Homo sapiens: one gene and its partner. The protein of the gene in region 2 interacts with the protein of the main gene of each other region in a pairwise test. Each region holds a gene or a part of one and is shown on either strand. Other genes may lie near its edges. The genes, in order: UNC93A and CD300C.

The links.
Region 1: the proteins of CD300C (region 2) and UNC93A interact in binary tests that used the Homo sapiens proteins (3 or more experiments, as listed by UniProt).

What each region holds. Positions count from the first base shown.
Region 1 is NC_000006.12:167,308,050-167,315,314, reverse strand, and holds part of UNC93A (protein unc-93 homolog A), read right to left. Parts: intron 5,776-7,265; coding exon of another isoform or gene 5,537-5,775; exon of another isoform or gene 4,719-5,536; intron 129-4,718; coding exon 1-128.
Region 2 is NC_000017.11:74,542,768-74,551,513, reverse strand, and holds the start of CD300C (CMRF35-like molecule 6 precursor), read left to right. Parts: upstream 1-5,398; 5' UTR 5,399-5,731; coding exon 5,732-5,792; intron 5,793-6,566; coding exon 6,567-6,905; coding exon of another isoform or gene 6,906-7,008; intron 7,009-8,276; exon of another isoform or gene 8,277-8,337; intron 8,338-8,526; coding exon 8,527-8,653; intron 8,654-8,746.

The DNA of each region.
Region 1 (7,265 bases), on a different chromosome or scaffold from region 2:
GTAGAGCTTGACGTGCACGCACAAAAACATGCTGTACCCGAAGGCAATGACGAAGCCCAGGGCCTCCCACAGGCGGTAATTGGCGAAGGCAGCTTCCTTGCTCTTCTCAAACAGAACGCCGTAGAGAGCTGCAGAGGAGAGAGCGGAGTGAGAGCTCTGCCATGGGCCCCACAGTGACCCTGTTTGTGAAAAGAGCACAGCTTTCCCACTGCCCCATTTTCTCAACTAAATCAAGACATTTTTCTTTTTTCACAACAGAATGATTTTACATGCCAGATGATAGCATGAACCCCGAAAACCTGAGGCAGGTCTCAGTTAACTTAGAATGTTTATTTTGCCCAGGTTGAGGACCGGTGCCCGTGACACAGCCTCAGGAGGTCCTGACGAGATGTGCCCAAGGTGGTCAGAACACACTGTAGATTTATACACTCTAGGGAGACATGAGACATCAATCAACATACGTAAGATGAACATTGGTTTGGTTAAGATGAGCATTGGTTTTGTCCAGAAAGGCAAGACAACTCCAAGCAAAGGTAGGAAGACTGGAAGCAGGGAGGGGGCTTCCGGGTCACGGGTAGATAAGAGACAAATGGTGGCATTCTTTTGAGTTTCTGATTAGCCTCTTCAAAGGAAACAATCAGATCTGCATTTCTCTCAGTGAGCAGAGGGGTGACTTTGAATAGAACGGGAGGCACGTTGGTGCTAAGCAGTTCCCAGCTAGACTTTTCCCTTTAGCTTAGGGATTTTGGAGCCCCAGGATTTTCCTGCTTGTGATTTAAACACAGGGCTCCTTTTGGGGCTCCACCCAGGCTGCTGGCCACAGAGACCCAGGAAAACCCTCCACAGCCTGAGGCGAAGTAGGCAGGTGGGGGGCAGGGACAGGAGCAGGGACAGTGGCAGCCTGAGCCCCGGTGAGGCAGGGTGTGCGGTGACCTTAACTGCAGGCAGCAGGGCCTGAAACCAGGGGCAGAAGCATGTGGTTCCCCAGGAGGATTCCAGACTGCCAGCCATGGGGTCCTTGAGGCAGGGAGGATGGCATTTAATTTTGTAAACTCCATGGCACCTGGTTCAGCGCAAGACACACAGGAGTGTGGAAAGAACCGTCTTGCCGAAGATTCGCTCTGCCCACCCCTCCCTTAGTGCTGGAGACAATGCCGTGTGTGGGGAGGCCCAGCACTAAATGTGTTAATGAGTTTTATACGAAACAACTCACATCATGAATGCTCCCTCTACTGCTGAAGACCAACGCAGATGCGCTTACAGCAGGGGAGTGCCCTGCTAGAGCCCTAAGATTCACACTGTCAACAGCTCATGGATGTTTGGGAAACAAGAAGCTCTTTGGAAGCCTCAGGACAAGGCACCCTTCTTGTCCCACAGTCTGCACATTGTCCACCTTAATAAAAGTAATGACCAAAGAGAACTGAATAACCAAATTTTGATTTAGTTGGCTTCTGAGACTATTCTAAACACCTCTTGTCTGTTTTTTGATGGTGACTGTTAGCATGGGATCCAAAACCAAGGTTCTAGGGAAGAAAATCCAAGTTGAGACACCATGGCTATAAGTGGTAGATCATGCCATGTTCTGTGGCTAAAAGCTCCCGGCTACACCCTGGGCAGGTCGGAAAACCAGAGCCAATGGACCCAGATTATAAATATTCTAGTAATACAGGCAACTCTAATTTTAAGCTAACTTTTTGGGAATATGGGTTGCTGTCATTCAAGAATTTCAAGATGAAATTTATATTGTGCTGCCGTGATTAGAAATCGTTGTCCTCCAAGAAAGGGACTCACTCCACTCCCCCAGCCCCCCCACCATCTCCCTTCGTCAAGTTCTGGTTGGTCCAAGGCCAATTCAGCTTCTTCATAAGTAGCCATGTTCTCCTCGGCCCTCTGAGTTTTTCCATAAACATAAACTTTCCGGGCCCTCAATGCCTCACATGTCACATGAAGAACTTGACATTCTCTGACTCTGGTTCCAAAATCTGGACCTAGTGAGGAGATCTACAACAAAGAGAGAAAGAGCTAGACTGTCTTCTAGCTCACATACTTGTGTTCAAAATCACCTAGATGTGTTTGGGAGACAGTAGGTTCCCCAGCATGGAGGACTTGGGGACCCAGAAGGTGGCTGGAAAGTGGGCTGTCCCCTGGCCACAAAACAGAATGGAGGAGGCCAAAGAAGACAGGTGTGGCCCCAGACAGAGGTGACACCCTCACTCCTGCCTGTCTGCTAATCCAGCTCTACCCACAGAAGCAGGGTCCACACCCACAGAGGGAGACGCCTAGGACCCAGATGAAGCCGCTGGAACTGCCTTTAAGAAACACGGAGGAAGAATCAGGGGAAACCGTTTGTCCCACTCGGGAAAGGGGAAGCCACACGTGTGGATGACATCAGCCCAGTCTAGGGGAGGAGAGGCCAATGCCAGTGATAATTAAACTCAGGCTTTTCAGGGAATTACTCAAGATTTGGTTCCTATTTTAATCCAAACATAAAGAAAGCAATGCATTTATTGTTTTGAATTGCATGGAACTACCCACAGCTAAGGACATAGTGGGGAAAGACATTTTTTAAAAAGGAAAGTAGACTGAAAATGGTATTTCAACAATTCTGAAATGACTGTACACATGTAAAAGATTGAACACATAAGGAAGCAGTCATACCTAGTGGGAACCAGGCTTCTGGCTGCCGGAGAATGGAGCGACAGCTACGCAGTGGGGGCTAGAATAAGCCCCGTGTCTTACCACCTTAATAAAGAAATAATGTGGTGTTGGATGGTGACCCAAAGTGTAGAGTAAATATACGAGCCCATGCTGATGCAGATCAATGATTGAGTAATAAATACATCGGGGAGAAGGGACAGGCGTTTTTTATGGAAGAATTACAGAGTACACATAGACATTCCTCAGGGTGGAGATTAGCTGCTGTCTTCTTGACTGCTGGCTCCCTGGGCACTCGCTCCCGCAGAACCGCGTGTGGAAAGGGAAGGCAGTGGGTTTGCAGTGGAGAGATGTGGCCGGCACCACGGAGCCAACGGGATCAAGGTTAACATCGCTGGTGAGGAGGCCTGTCCCTGTCCTGTATCCCCCATATGACGGGACAAGAAAGTGCCTCACCAGGGAGCTGTCCTCCGCAAACCCACAGCCCCAGCCTAATCATGAGAAAACAGCAAACAAACCAAAATTAAGGAACAGCCTACAGACTACGGTGCTCTTCAAAAGGGTCCAGGTCATGAAAAACAAGGAAAATGAAAAGCTGTCACAGAGCAGCCAGAAGATACGATGACTGAGTCCAACAGGGAATCCAGGACAGGATCCTGGCACAGAAAAAAGAACCCTCGTGGGAAGCCTGGAGGAACCCAAATAAAGGCTGTCCCCCCACTAACTGTCACATGGCAGCGTTACTTCCTAGCTGTACGAATGTGCCGTGGCTCTGTGAGATGCTCAGCATTTGGGGAAGCTGGCACAGGGCCTACGGGGTAAATGCATTGGATCTATAGGTTGGTACCTTTCAAGGGGACTCTCTGTACTACATTTGCAACTTTTCTGTAAATCTAAAACTATTTCAAAATAAAAGCTGTATTTAGAAAGACAAAGCATTGCTCTCAGCCTGGCCTGTCTGCCTCCTCTTCCCAGGTGGCCCAGGGTTAAAGAGACCAGGATGTGGATGAGAAGTCCAGCAATCTTGTTTAGTCAGAGAAGACAGGTTAAGTGAATAGGGCACTGAAGAAGTGAGATTTTCTGAGTTTATCACCCTGAAAACAGCCAACAGAGCAAAAGAGTATTTTTAGACTAGACATTCTGTATCTTCATGGCAGCGCATTGGCGGGGAAGGGTTGCCATGGCAACTGCACCCATCTTTCATTAGCTGTCTGAGGGAATAAGCAGAGAGGAGTGCCTGGCACAGATCTCCCCTTGCAGAGGCCAGGGGATGGCTGGAGCCCAGTGGGACAGTGAGCCAGGGATCCTCAATTCTGGCCCAGGAAGGAGGGGCTCAAATGGTGAAGTCTTCTGACCTGCTTCTAAGTGGGAGACTGTAAGGACCAGTCTTTAAATTGAGCAGTGATGACTGAAAGGTGAGGACAAAGTGCATTGGGTTTTATTCGGTGTCGTTAATTAAGAACATACGTGGTCCACATATGTTCTTAAAGGAAAGCATACATTTGGGGAGAATAGGATTAGAAATCTAACTTGCTACTTAGAAAAACAAAAATGAAGAGAGCTGTTCTTGAGATGTAGCCAAAGCTACATAAAATTTCCAGTTTTTTCAAAAAATAGAGAACAGAGACCTTGTGTGTGTGCTGTGCTGCATGGAGAGCCAGCCTGCCAGGAGTGCAGGAACGCGGCACTAAAATGCCACTCACGCATGACGATTGCGAGTATAAAGTCCACAGGAGCTTCTCAAGTATATGAAAATATTTTCCCCAACATTTTTTTTGTGAGACAGAGTCTTGCTCTGTCGCCCAGGCTGCAGTGCAATGACGTGATCTCAGCTCACTGCAACCTCTGCCTCCCAGGTTCATGTGATCCTCCAGCTTCAGCCTCCCTCGTAGCTGAGACTACAGGCATGTGCCATCACGCCTGGCTAATTTTTGTATTTTTAGTAGAGATGAGGTTTTACCATGTTGGCCAGGCTGGTCTTGAACTCCTGAGCTTAAGTGATCTGTCTGGTTCATCCTCCCAAAGTGGTGGGATTACAGGGGTGAGACACCGCACCCGGCCAGTTTGGTTTATTTTTGAAAAAAATTACTTTTTCCTGTACAGAAAGACAGAAACAGTTTCAATTTAAATTAGCATCCCTTATTAAAGGGAGTCTTTATTCCAGTCATTCACCGGACTTGGACGTTGATACTCTTTGTTTGACCTTAGGTAACTTTGTTTGCACAATTCAACAAGGCTTTCCCTGAGAGTATCATGTGTCCATATAAGGAAAAGGAGAGTTAAGTCCACTGTTCACATAGCTCAGGAAGAACAAAAACCAAATATGAATGATCACATTCATTGGGAGCATTTAGGGAATTATCGTATGGAATATTGTGGGGATATTTGTCCCAGTGTTCTCCTTTTCATTTAATGTGTAAATACATTTTAAAATTCATGTAAGTTCAGATAAGTCATGGTGCACTTCTGGTAATGGGATGTGCATTTGGGGAGCTCAGTGAAACACCGGCTCTGCCACACATCCAGGGGACAGTTTAAACAAATACTGTTTGATGCTTATTGGTAACGTAGCTAAGAGTCCTGCAGCGAGGTGACATGCCACTAGCTTATAATTCTGCACTGCCAAGAACACCAAAGTGAGTTGCTGTTTGTCTCCCCTCCATTAAATCAGTATTTGTTCTGTTAAGCAATGCCCCGGCCTGGCCTCGGGTCCAGTCTACCCCTTCCAGCCTCCAGGCCTTGATCCCAACAAGCCAGAGTGTGGCGCTGGGCCAAGTACACACGCATTTTGGTGAAGAGCTTCACTAGGTCCACCTGCATTACTGGGGCAGCAGAAAGGACTGTGAAACACGGCTCCTTAAATCCAACAGTGTGGGTTTGTTCAAAGGTGATTTTCAGCTGTCCTGTGGATACGCAACCCACCAGGAAGACAAGAAAGGACGTGGCTGGAGTGTTCTGTCCGCGATCTGAGGTCACATGTGCTCTTTATCCTCAGTGCAGGGACAGCAGCCAGGTCTGTCATCTCAGAAACATTGGCCTGTAGTTCGTTTGTGGGTTTGCTTTTTCCATTTTCTAAGCCCCGAGTGTTTCCCAGATAAAGGCAGAATGGTGAAGTCTCTCCTGAAGGGAAGAGGGTCTCATGTGAGCCATGCTCACCTCCGAGAGGACACTTCATCTCACCTCATCAGCATCTCTTAGACACGCAGTCTTGCCTCTTTGGGCCTCTGACACCCCTCGGGGCCTTAGATGGGGTTTTTTGGGAAATTCAGGGTTCCTACCCTAAGTCCTCATCTGTGTCATTTTCAACACCACCCAGTACGCACACCCTCCGGCAAGCGGCCACACACACTGCCCCAGCTTCCTTCTCTTCCTAGTGACCTTCCTCCAAAACGCTCTCACGCATCTCCTTGTGGAAAACACAGCCAGCCCGCACAAAGCACCTCGGAGCTCAGCAGAGCCTGGCATGAGTGCAGTGGTGCGATCTCGGCTAACTATGACCTCTGCCTCCGGAGTTCAAGTGATTCTCCTGCCTCAGCCTCCCGAGTAGCTGGGATTACAGGTGCAACGGCCATGTCCCCTTCCAGCTCTCTTGCCCTCAGGCCTCTCTAGTGCAGCTGCCTGAGCCTGGGGCCCCTTCCTCCCTGGCTCCTGCTTGGCTCCTTGGCTCCCGCTCATCTCCCATCCGTGTCCTCACTGCCCTGCCTGACCTCCTGGCCAGGCCACCCTATTCTGTGAGGACTTTGGCATTTGGCTCCTGCCATCATCATGGGATGTCACCTTCTATCCGACAACCAGCCCTCCCGGCTCCCCACAGGGCCGCACCTTGGACCTTGTCACCTGCCTTTTGGAATTGATTGTTGTGACACGGGGCCGACTCCACATAGCTCCCAGTCACTCCTGGGTGTCAGCGCTTTCTGCTGCTTCCAGTGACCTAGGTGCATCTGACCCTCCCCCACATGCTGGCCCCACACTTGGGGACCCGACTTGCCACTCCACCCCACTCCTCTGCACTCCCCCCAGGCCGCCTTCTTAGGGGCCCCAGCCCCAGCAAGGCCTTGGAGCATCCCTGCCACCTCCTGCCCTGGTTCCTCCTGCACCCCACCCCACCTGGACAGTGGTCAGCCCATACGTGATGCAGATGTAGCCTCTAGGAGGAAGCCCACCCTGGCCTCCCCTGCTCCCCCACATCCACAGGGCCCCCACCTGCTGCTCCCAGAAAACCCACCACTGCCCAGGATGCCCCAGAGCCCCGTCCACAGACACTGACCCTAGTGACCTGTGATGTGTGTGGCTTGTGGCTCACACTGCCACCTCCCATCGTCCCGTGGGCTCCTTGGAAGGCTCTGCATGTTTACACCCCAGGCCCAGGTACACGGGAGTGTGCCTCTGCTCACAAGCACATCTGAATAAAGGTTTTCAGTCATGAAGAGACTGCTGTCCTAGGGGTAGAGAGTCTTGCACCCCAGCTCGAATGGGCGACTTGACTTAAGCAAAACCACATCATCCTGAGGGAATGGTGCCCAGAAGGAACCTTGGGTGGTTTTCCAGTTTTGCATCATGAATCTGAATAAATGCTCAGAGAAAATACATCAGACTCAGAGGCGACATCA
Region 2 (8,746 bases):
ACACAGTGTCTGTGTGTGCATGCATGGGTTTGCTGTGTGTGTATGCACAGGTGTGTGTGTGCGCACGCATGCACAGGTGTGAGTTGTGTTTGTGGTGTGTGTGTGTGCGTGCGCAGGTGTGGTGTGTGTGTGCTTGCACAATTGTGTGGTGTGTTTGTGTGTGTGCACCCGTGTGTGTGTGTGCTGACATGCACAAAAGCACATTTGCACCTGTTGTTGGAGACTCCTCTGTGTGCCCCACCCTGAAAGTGTCTGGCCTTGTGGGGCCACCAGCCTGGCTGACATTTGGGGTTGAGTGGACTCGGGTCCCATCATTCAGGGAGGGCCCCACTGACTTCCTGTCCTTACTTCCAGTTCACTCCAGCCACTGCCATGCCCAGGGCCCTGGCTCCGCAGTCACTCTAGGTCACGCTTCACAGAGTGAATGTCACCCCTCCCTCCTTGGCTGGGATGGGGTCTGCAGCCAGGTCTTCTTTCCACAGACTCTCACGTTCCCCTAGAGAGCAGGTTGACTCTTGCCTCTGAAAGTGCTCATCTGGCTATGAAGTACTTGGGGATAAGACTAGGGAGGGGCCCAGGGCCCTGGTCCGGCCTGCGTGTGGCCGTGGAACGTGTTGGACTCAGGGCATCTGTCCAGCATGTACTGAGTGATCGTGTCTGTGGAAATCAGAGCTGAACAGGTGATGATGAGTGGGAGACTCAGGCGAGGTCGCCGAGACTGACCTGTGATGCCCCTGCAGCCCTGACAGCGGCCTCCAGTCTCAGAGCTCCACGGGCACCTCGGGTCCTCCCGTTACGTCCCAGCGTGCACCTGGCCCAGCTCTACCAGACAGGACAGCCCTGATCCCAGCCCACACCCAGGGTAAGGTTCGTGCCCCCAGGACTGCCACCTGGGCAGCCTTTCCTGTAGGCTGGGGAGAGATGGGATGGTTGTGTCTCTCTTCTTCTGGTCCCTTCTTTGCTCACGCCTCCCACACCTAATGTGAAGGTCCTACTAAGTGCCAGGTGCTCCTGTCAGGATAGGGTCACAGCAGGGAACCACTCAGCCACAGTCCTGCTCTGGTGGAGTTTGGGTTCTACCAGGTGGATTCACACAGTGAACAGGTCAGCACAGTGGCTGACAGACAAATACAGCGAAGTTTGATGACTGCTGGGAAGAGATATTTGTGCCTTGGGTTTGGGGAGCATGTGTGTGGGTGTTGGAGTCGCTATTTCACTGACAATGATCAGAAGAGGGTTTGTGGATTAGAGGACATGAGCGTGGAGACCTGCAGGATTTGGGAGCAGGGCGCTCTGGGGTCTGGGGGAAGAGGGGTCCAGGCAGAGGGAGGAGTGAGGCAAATGTCCTGCAAGGGAGTCCTGGGACCCGGCCAGGCCAGGGCAGGGGGCAGATGTTTTGGTGCCCGGTGACCCCGGCCCTCTCCCCTGGCCTCCCTTGCAGCCCTGGCCCGAGTCTCATCCTGTTTGATGAGCCCAGTCCTCTGAGGAGCTGAGAGCTGAGCTGGGCCATTCATTCATTCCTTCCATTCCTTCAACAACCATGAATTTTACAGGCTGATATTTGCAACCAGAGGGCAGGTACCAGTTACTTGTGAATAACATGAATAGTCCTCACCTTCTCGGGAAATGATGGCCATACAGGCATCAAACTACATGACTGATTCCATGCGCCAGTGAATAACCCCGGGATGTAGAGATCTTGTGGGTGTGGTTCTCACCTGGATCCCTCCCTGTCCTCATGCACCATTTTCACGGCCACGTGCTTCCTTATAGGCAGTCCTGAGACTCCAGGGACTCTCAGGCTGAAGGTCAGGGTCTAATGATCTCTTTAGAGGAGTTGTCATATACAGAGTTTGTCCTCACAGGGATTTGTGTGGCCACAGGACCTGGGTTCACAGACAGGCAGAAGGTGGAGGGCACCTGGGCTTCCCCTGGGGAGATGACTCACTGCCATCACCGTGTCCCCACAGCTCCCTGTTCAGCAGCCCCTACGTCCTGCTCCTGGTCCTGGAGCTGCCCCTGCTCCTGAGCATGCTGGGTGCCGTCGTCTGGGTGAACGGACCTCAGAGAAGCTCTGGAAGCAGGCAGAGTTGGCCAGAGGGTGAGAACCAGTAGCATCTACTGTCCATCAAGGCCCTGCACTGCGACAGAACCCCTTTGCGGGACTGGAATGACCTCCTGACCACTCCCTCCCGGGCTGCTCTCTCCACATCTCCTGGAATTCTCTGTGAGCCTCCTTCAGCCTTTTCCCTGTGCCTGATCCATGAATCACACGTGAACCTGATGGACACAGACGCCCTGAGCTGTGACTCCATGTCTCATGTGCACGCCCTGGCCAGCTGAACCTCGAGCTGTCACCAACACCTCTAAGTGCCTGATGCCCTCTCTGCACCTTTCCATTTCTCCAGGAGCTTGGCATTGCTTCCTTCAACGTTTTCACAGGGAGGAGCAGGTCCAGGACTCCCCTGCACCTTTGCCACCATAATGGCCCACACTCCCCGGGTCCAGGAGTGCAGAATATGTGGCTGCTTCCATTTGCTGAGTGTGTCAATTCAATGATGCTTTCGAACTTTAAGAAATGACAATACATAGATTCTGGACCTATCATGCCCACTAAGTCAGACCTGGGTGAAAACTCCATTGTTCCCTGATCTCCACAGGCCTTTGCTCAGAATAGTGGACTAAGCCCCAGGCTGGGCCTCTCAGGACTGGGGTCCCTGCAGAAGAGGATCCAGGATTCCCCCCAAAACCTGACAATTCCGTTCCTTATGTAGACACATCCTGGCCAGTGTCTTCTGGTCCCTGCGGGAGGGCTGGTAGAAGATTATCAGTGTGAGTTGTGGCATGGTAGCCAGGCCTTTCCTTCCTCCTTCCTCAAGGGGACCTGACCTCCCCTTCATTCCAGGGCTGTGGCTTTTAACTGACTCAAATATGGAAATTGGTTGAGGGCCGTGACTTCTTAATGTGGTAGTTAACTGAGTCTTTTGCTTACTAGTGCAGACCATGTCTGCTTATCCAGACAAAGGAAGACGTTATCAGCTGACCATCGTTTCGGTTCCAGGGATGCCACACCCAAGACCCCTGTGAGGCAGATGATCCCCATGAGTCCACCAGGTCAAGGAGGGACACGCCTGGGGGTCCTCACCTATTTTTACATTCAGCAGATACTTATGGGAGCTTCTGGTGTATCAGACACTGACCTGGCATTGGAGTCCAGCCGTGAACACCCAGGCAAGGAGCTCTGTTTTCATTGAGCTCATATTCCAGGCGGGGGATAGAAATGATAAACAGATGCAAAAATACGTGCATAAATTCCAGAAGAAATATAAAAGTCAGAGATGAAAAGAGTCACGGAATGAAATAAGAGAAGTGGGGTGACTGCTGTGCAGGAGCTGAGGGGGACTGTGGTGAAGCCCCTCTAATAGGCGCTGAGCAAGCAGGGATCAGGAGAAAGGAGGGGGTGAGCGCCAGGATCCCTGGAGGAGGAGCCCTGAGGCAGAGAGAGGAGCAGGTGCACATGTCCTGCCAGGGGCAGATGCCTCCCTGGGTCAGGTGGCTTCAGGGCCTCCAGACAGCATTTCCTGTCTCCTCCCCAGCCTGGGCAGGAAATGGTGCACCAACTTTGGATGACTAAGTCCTCTGAGGCAGTGGGACATCAGGATGTCATGTATCCATTCACCCATTCATCCTTTCAACAGCCAGTTTGTTAAACTGCACTTGGCAGACTCTGGAATGATAACGGGCACAGCTGTGAATGAGACAAGAGGCTGCACCTGCTCTCAAGGGGCGGCCACCCTAGATGGGAGCAGACATTGACTCGCCAACAGAAAGACTGAGGAAGACGAGAGGGAAGTGTGAAATGGGTCATGAGGACCCCTAAAAAGCGAGCCACCATAACCCGGGAAGGTCAAGGAACACGCAGGCAACCCTGTCGGCTGGAGCCAGGCAGAGGAGTGGGAGGTTGAGGGTCTGGACAAAGGCCCGAGTGGGGAGGGTGGCAGCACCAGTGTGAACCTGGATCCAGGAGGCTGGAGACACCTACCAGGTGCTGGGGCCTGCCAGGACCTGTGTGCAGAGGCCAGGTCAGGTGGGTGCCATCCTGTGACAGCAGGAGCCATTGGGAGTTCAGCAGCGCCTCCCCAGGGCCATGTGTGTGTGTCAGGGATCACATTGCTGATTCTGTGGAGAATGAAAGGGGTGGGTATGAGCAGAAGGGGAGACCAGGTCAGCCCATGAAAGAGCCGGGATACTTCAAAGCCAGGCCCAGGCCAGACCTGAGCACTGGGCTAATTGGAGGCCCTGGGATTGCACTGGGCTAGAGATAGTCCCATGATGTGAGTCTGGGGGCATCAACACCAATGACCCCAGTGCATGCTGTGTCCCTGAGAGTGTAAATGGAGGGAGGACAGGGCAGGTCGAGGGTGCAGAGACCCCTTCATGGTGCCAGGTTTGCCCAGACTCCCATCACTCTCCACTCAACCTCATGGCTGTGTGCACATACTGGTGCTATTGACTCTGATAGGAAGAAAGGAACAGAAATCTGTAGGAGGGTTGGGAGAGTCAAGGAATATGCTTAAGGCATGAGAAGGTGGAGAAGGGGTGATGCCCTCCAGGACAGACAGGAGGTAAATCCTGTGTCTGACTAGCCTCCTTGCCCTTTCCAGGGTAAAGACACCCTGAGCCCATCACGTCAGGAGAACCAGCCATGCCGAGTGTGGATAGACCTGGGTTCCCGCCTCCTGGGAAGGCCTGTCTGCCATGTCTGCTCCCTGCGGAGGCCCCTGGCCATCACAGTGGACCCAGGATAGACACCAGCAGCCGCTGCTCATGACAAACTGTCCTCTCAGTCACCAAACACCCCTCCGTGTGCCCTGGGGTGTGTGCTGGCTCAGTCGCAGCCTCACATCCTCCACAAAGTCCCACTTCAGCATCTTCACATGTCTGAACTCTCTCTCTATTCTCAGTTCTCTGCCCTGATTCCCACTGGGGCATGGATTTTGGCAAGAAGACAAGATGGAAAAGGAGGGTCTCGGGTGGGTGATGCCGCTGTGTGTGTAGGTCTGGGGGCAGGGGCACAAGAGGAAAACTCCCCAAGCCTGTGGGATTTTAACCTGGTTGGGGACTCAGCACCAAAAAGGGACATGCAGATGGTGTCTGGGTTCATAGCGCTAACTTCTGAGGCCAGAAGAAGAGCTGGGGGTCTTAGGGGCAGAGGTCTCTGCGGGGACCTAGCTGAAGATTAAGGGACACAACCTCTCTCTGGTCACCTCCAAGGCTAAAGAAGGTGGCAGATTTAGCCTCCAACCACAAGATTGTCCATCCTGACCAGGAAGTGACATGTCACAGAGGGTGGAGCAGCCCATGTGGTAGGAAATGGCCCAGCTTGGCTCTGCCTTCTGCAGTGTGAGTAACACACTGAAGCCAGAAGCTGTGGGCTGTGGGGAAGTGGCTGCATCGCCACCCAAGGGACCCTGGACTTTGCCAGACGTCAGGGTTGAGAGGAGCCACTAGCACCATCCCAGAGCTGTCAGCACCGGCCTCAGCCCAGGCGGCTCTCTCCCTGAGCTTCCTGTACCCTGACCCTCTCCAGCCTCAGACCTGAGACAGGGCTGGACAAGGAAGCAGAGAGCAGAAGAAAAGCAGAAGCGAAGCTCAGATCTGCTGGGAGGAGATTACATTTTGTCCCCTCCTGGGGTCTTGCACAGTGGCAGGTGACATTCGTGTTACAGGAATGACTGCCAGGGCCTGGGCCTCGTGGCGGTCTTCAGCTCTGCTCCTCCTGCTTGTCCCAGGTGAGTGGGCCGACCCTGGACTTGGGGAGCTCTGTCCTGAGTGGGAGAGGGCAGGGAGGGGTGCAGGCGCTGGAGTAGCGGTCATAGAGGGGAGTGGGGCAGGGAGAGGGGAGGAGGGCAAAGGAGCACCCAGGAGCGGTCAGCAGCTGCCTCACCAGGGGACAGCAGGCGGCAGGGCACAGCACGGGGGAGGCCTATTCCTCTGTGCCCGAGACAGGAAGCCCTGGTGGGAGGTGATGCTGTGACTGTCATTGCCAAAGTTATCCAATCACAAATTTTATCTGGGACGATCACACACACAGTCACACTCACACGCACACACGGTCACACTCACACAGTCTCACACACATGCACACACAGTCACACTCACACAGTCTCACACACACATGCACACAGTCACACATGCACACACAGTCACACTCACATGCACACACAGTCACACATGCACACACAGTCACACACAGTCACACTCACACAGACAGTCACACTCACACAGTCACACACACAGAGTCACACTCACATGCACACACAGGCCCGCACACACCCAGTGTTTCCCTAGCCTTGCCTTTCCAGTCTCCATGGAAACTTCCCATGCCCTTCCCACCTCTGCACAGAGGGAGCCTCCCACCCTCAGTCCCTGTTCCTGGGTGGACAAAGGCTGCCTGCCTGCCATTGCCTTCTCCACACGCCCAGGGTCCATGAGGGGCTGACACTGCGGCACCCCTGACCAGGCCCCTCTGGTAAGGAGACAGGATTTTGGCTTGTATTTTTCAGGCTATTTTCCTCTGAGCCACCCCATGACCGTGGCGGGCCCCGTGGGGGGATCCCTGAGTGTGCAGTGTCGCTATGAGAAGGAACACAGGACCCTCAACAAATTCTGGTGCAGACCACCACAGATTCTCCGATGTGACAAGATTGTGGAGACCAAAGGGTCAGCAGGGAAAAGGAATGGCCGAGTGTCCATCAGGGACAGTCCTGCAAACCTCAGCTTCACAGTGACCCTGGAGAATCTCACAGAGGAGGACGCAGGCACCTACTGGTGTGGGGTGGATACACCGTGGCTCCGAGACTTTCATGATCCCATTGTCGAGGTTGAGGTGTCCGTGTTCCCGGGTGAGCCCCTCCTTTTCTCAGCACCAGGCCTGCCTGAGCCTAGGGCTGGTCATTCTGTCCCTGAAGAAAGAAGTGGAACAGGAGGGTGTGAGCCTGGGGGTTGGTGAGTCAGGACACTGTGTGCCGCTGTGTGTGGATGAGTGTGAGTGCGTCTTTGTGTATGCGTGCCTGCATAGGAGTTGTGGTGTGGTTTGTGTGTGTGTGCACCTGCATGTGTGTGTTGGGAGGGTGGGCGCCCACAAAAGCACCCTGGCCCTGTGGCTGGAGACCCCCCGCTGTGGGCCCTCCCTCACGGCCTCAGGCCTGAAACTTTCCTGGGTGGGGTCTGTGAGGCCACCCCTGACTCTGGGGTCCTTGCTACCTCCCTGTATTGACAAGGGCCGGATCCATACTGAAGGGTGCCCACTGTCCCGCCTGGGTCTAACTCGCTCTTCCCCACGGGGAATTGGACCCCCCCATCATTGGCTCCTCTCACTCAAGGCTGCCCCTGCCCTGGGGCCTGCATGGATGCCGCCCTGTCTGGAGGGTCCTGAGGCCGCAGCCTCACAGCCCTGTCCTGGGAGCTCCTGCAGCAGCCACTGGAGGACACAGGAAGGAGCCCCAGAGCCCTGGGTGGGGTTCTCATGCTCCTGGGAACCACATCCTGCCCCTGAGGCTGACCTGTGTGTCCCCCTTATTCTCTGGCACCTTTTACCACAGGAGGGAACCCCAGAAATTGCCCCCTCAGGCAAAGGGACCTGTGGATGGAAATGAGCTGAGACTGGCACGGACCTGAGGGCCCTTTCCCGTGCCGAAGATCATTCTTCCCTCAAAGGCCCCCTCCTGTCTCACAAGACACAAACCCAGTGGCCTCAGTGTGGTTGCTTTTCCATCGTTTTCTTCTGACAATGTCCCAGGTTCCTCGGAGCATCTTCTTGTTCTCCATTTCCCCGGGGGCGACGTGTCCCTCCTGCGCCCTTTGTGCCTTCCTATCTAGGAGTGAGGAGCTAAGATCCCACCTGAGGGCGCCAGGGAGAGGAGGAAAGGGCCCTTATCCAGCTGTATTCACCACGGGCCGCCGCCCAGGCTTCACCGGGCATCCCCTCTCTAGATCTTTCTTCCTGGGCATTCCCTCCTGCTGAGAGGATGGTCCAATGGCCTTGTGGGGCCGCAGCATGGCTGCCATTTGGGGCTGAGTGGACTCGGGTCCCATCGTTCAGGGAGGACCCCACTGACTTCCTGTCCTCACTTCCAGCCTCTCTCCAGCCACTGCTGTGCCCAGGGCCCTGGCTTCGCAGTCACTCTGGGTCACCCTTCGCAGAGTAAACATCACCCCATTCCCCCAGGTCACCCTGTCCCTCCCTGGCTGGGGTGAAACCTGGAGACCCGTACCTTTGCCACAGGTGAGCAGGGCAGCTCTCACATCTGAAATGGTGTCCTGGCTCTGCAGTACCTAGGGATGGGACAAGGAGAGGCCCAGGACCCTGGTCAGGCCTGGGTGTGGCCGTGGGGCATGATGGATGCAGGGCATCTGTCCAGCACATCATTGGTGACCTTGTCTGTGAAAATTGGAGCAGAACAGGTGAGAGTAAGTGGGAGACCCATGTGATGTCATCAAGGTTGACCTGTGTTTCACCCACAGCCGGGACGACCACAGCCTCCAGCCCCCAGAGCTCCATGGGCACCTCAGGTCCTCCCACGAAGCTGCCCGTGCACACCTGGCCCAGCGTGACCAGAAAGGACAGCCCCGAACCCAGCCCACACCCTGGGTAAGGTGCCTGCGCATAGGACTGGGCCACGCTGGCGGCCTCCCCACTGCGTGTGATGTTTAGGGGACTCGGATGTCCCTTCTTCCAGTCCCT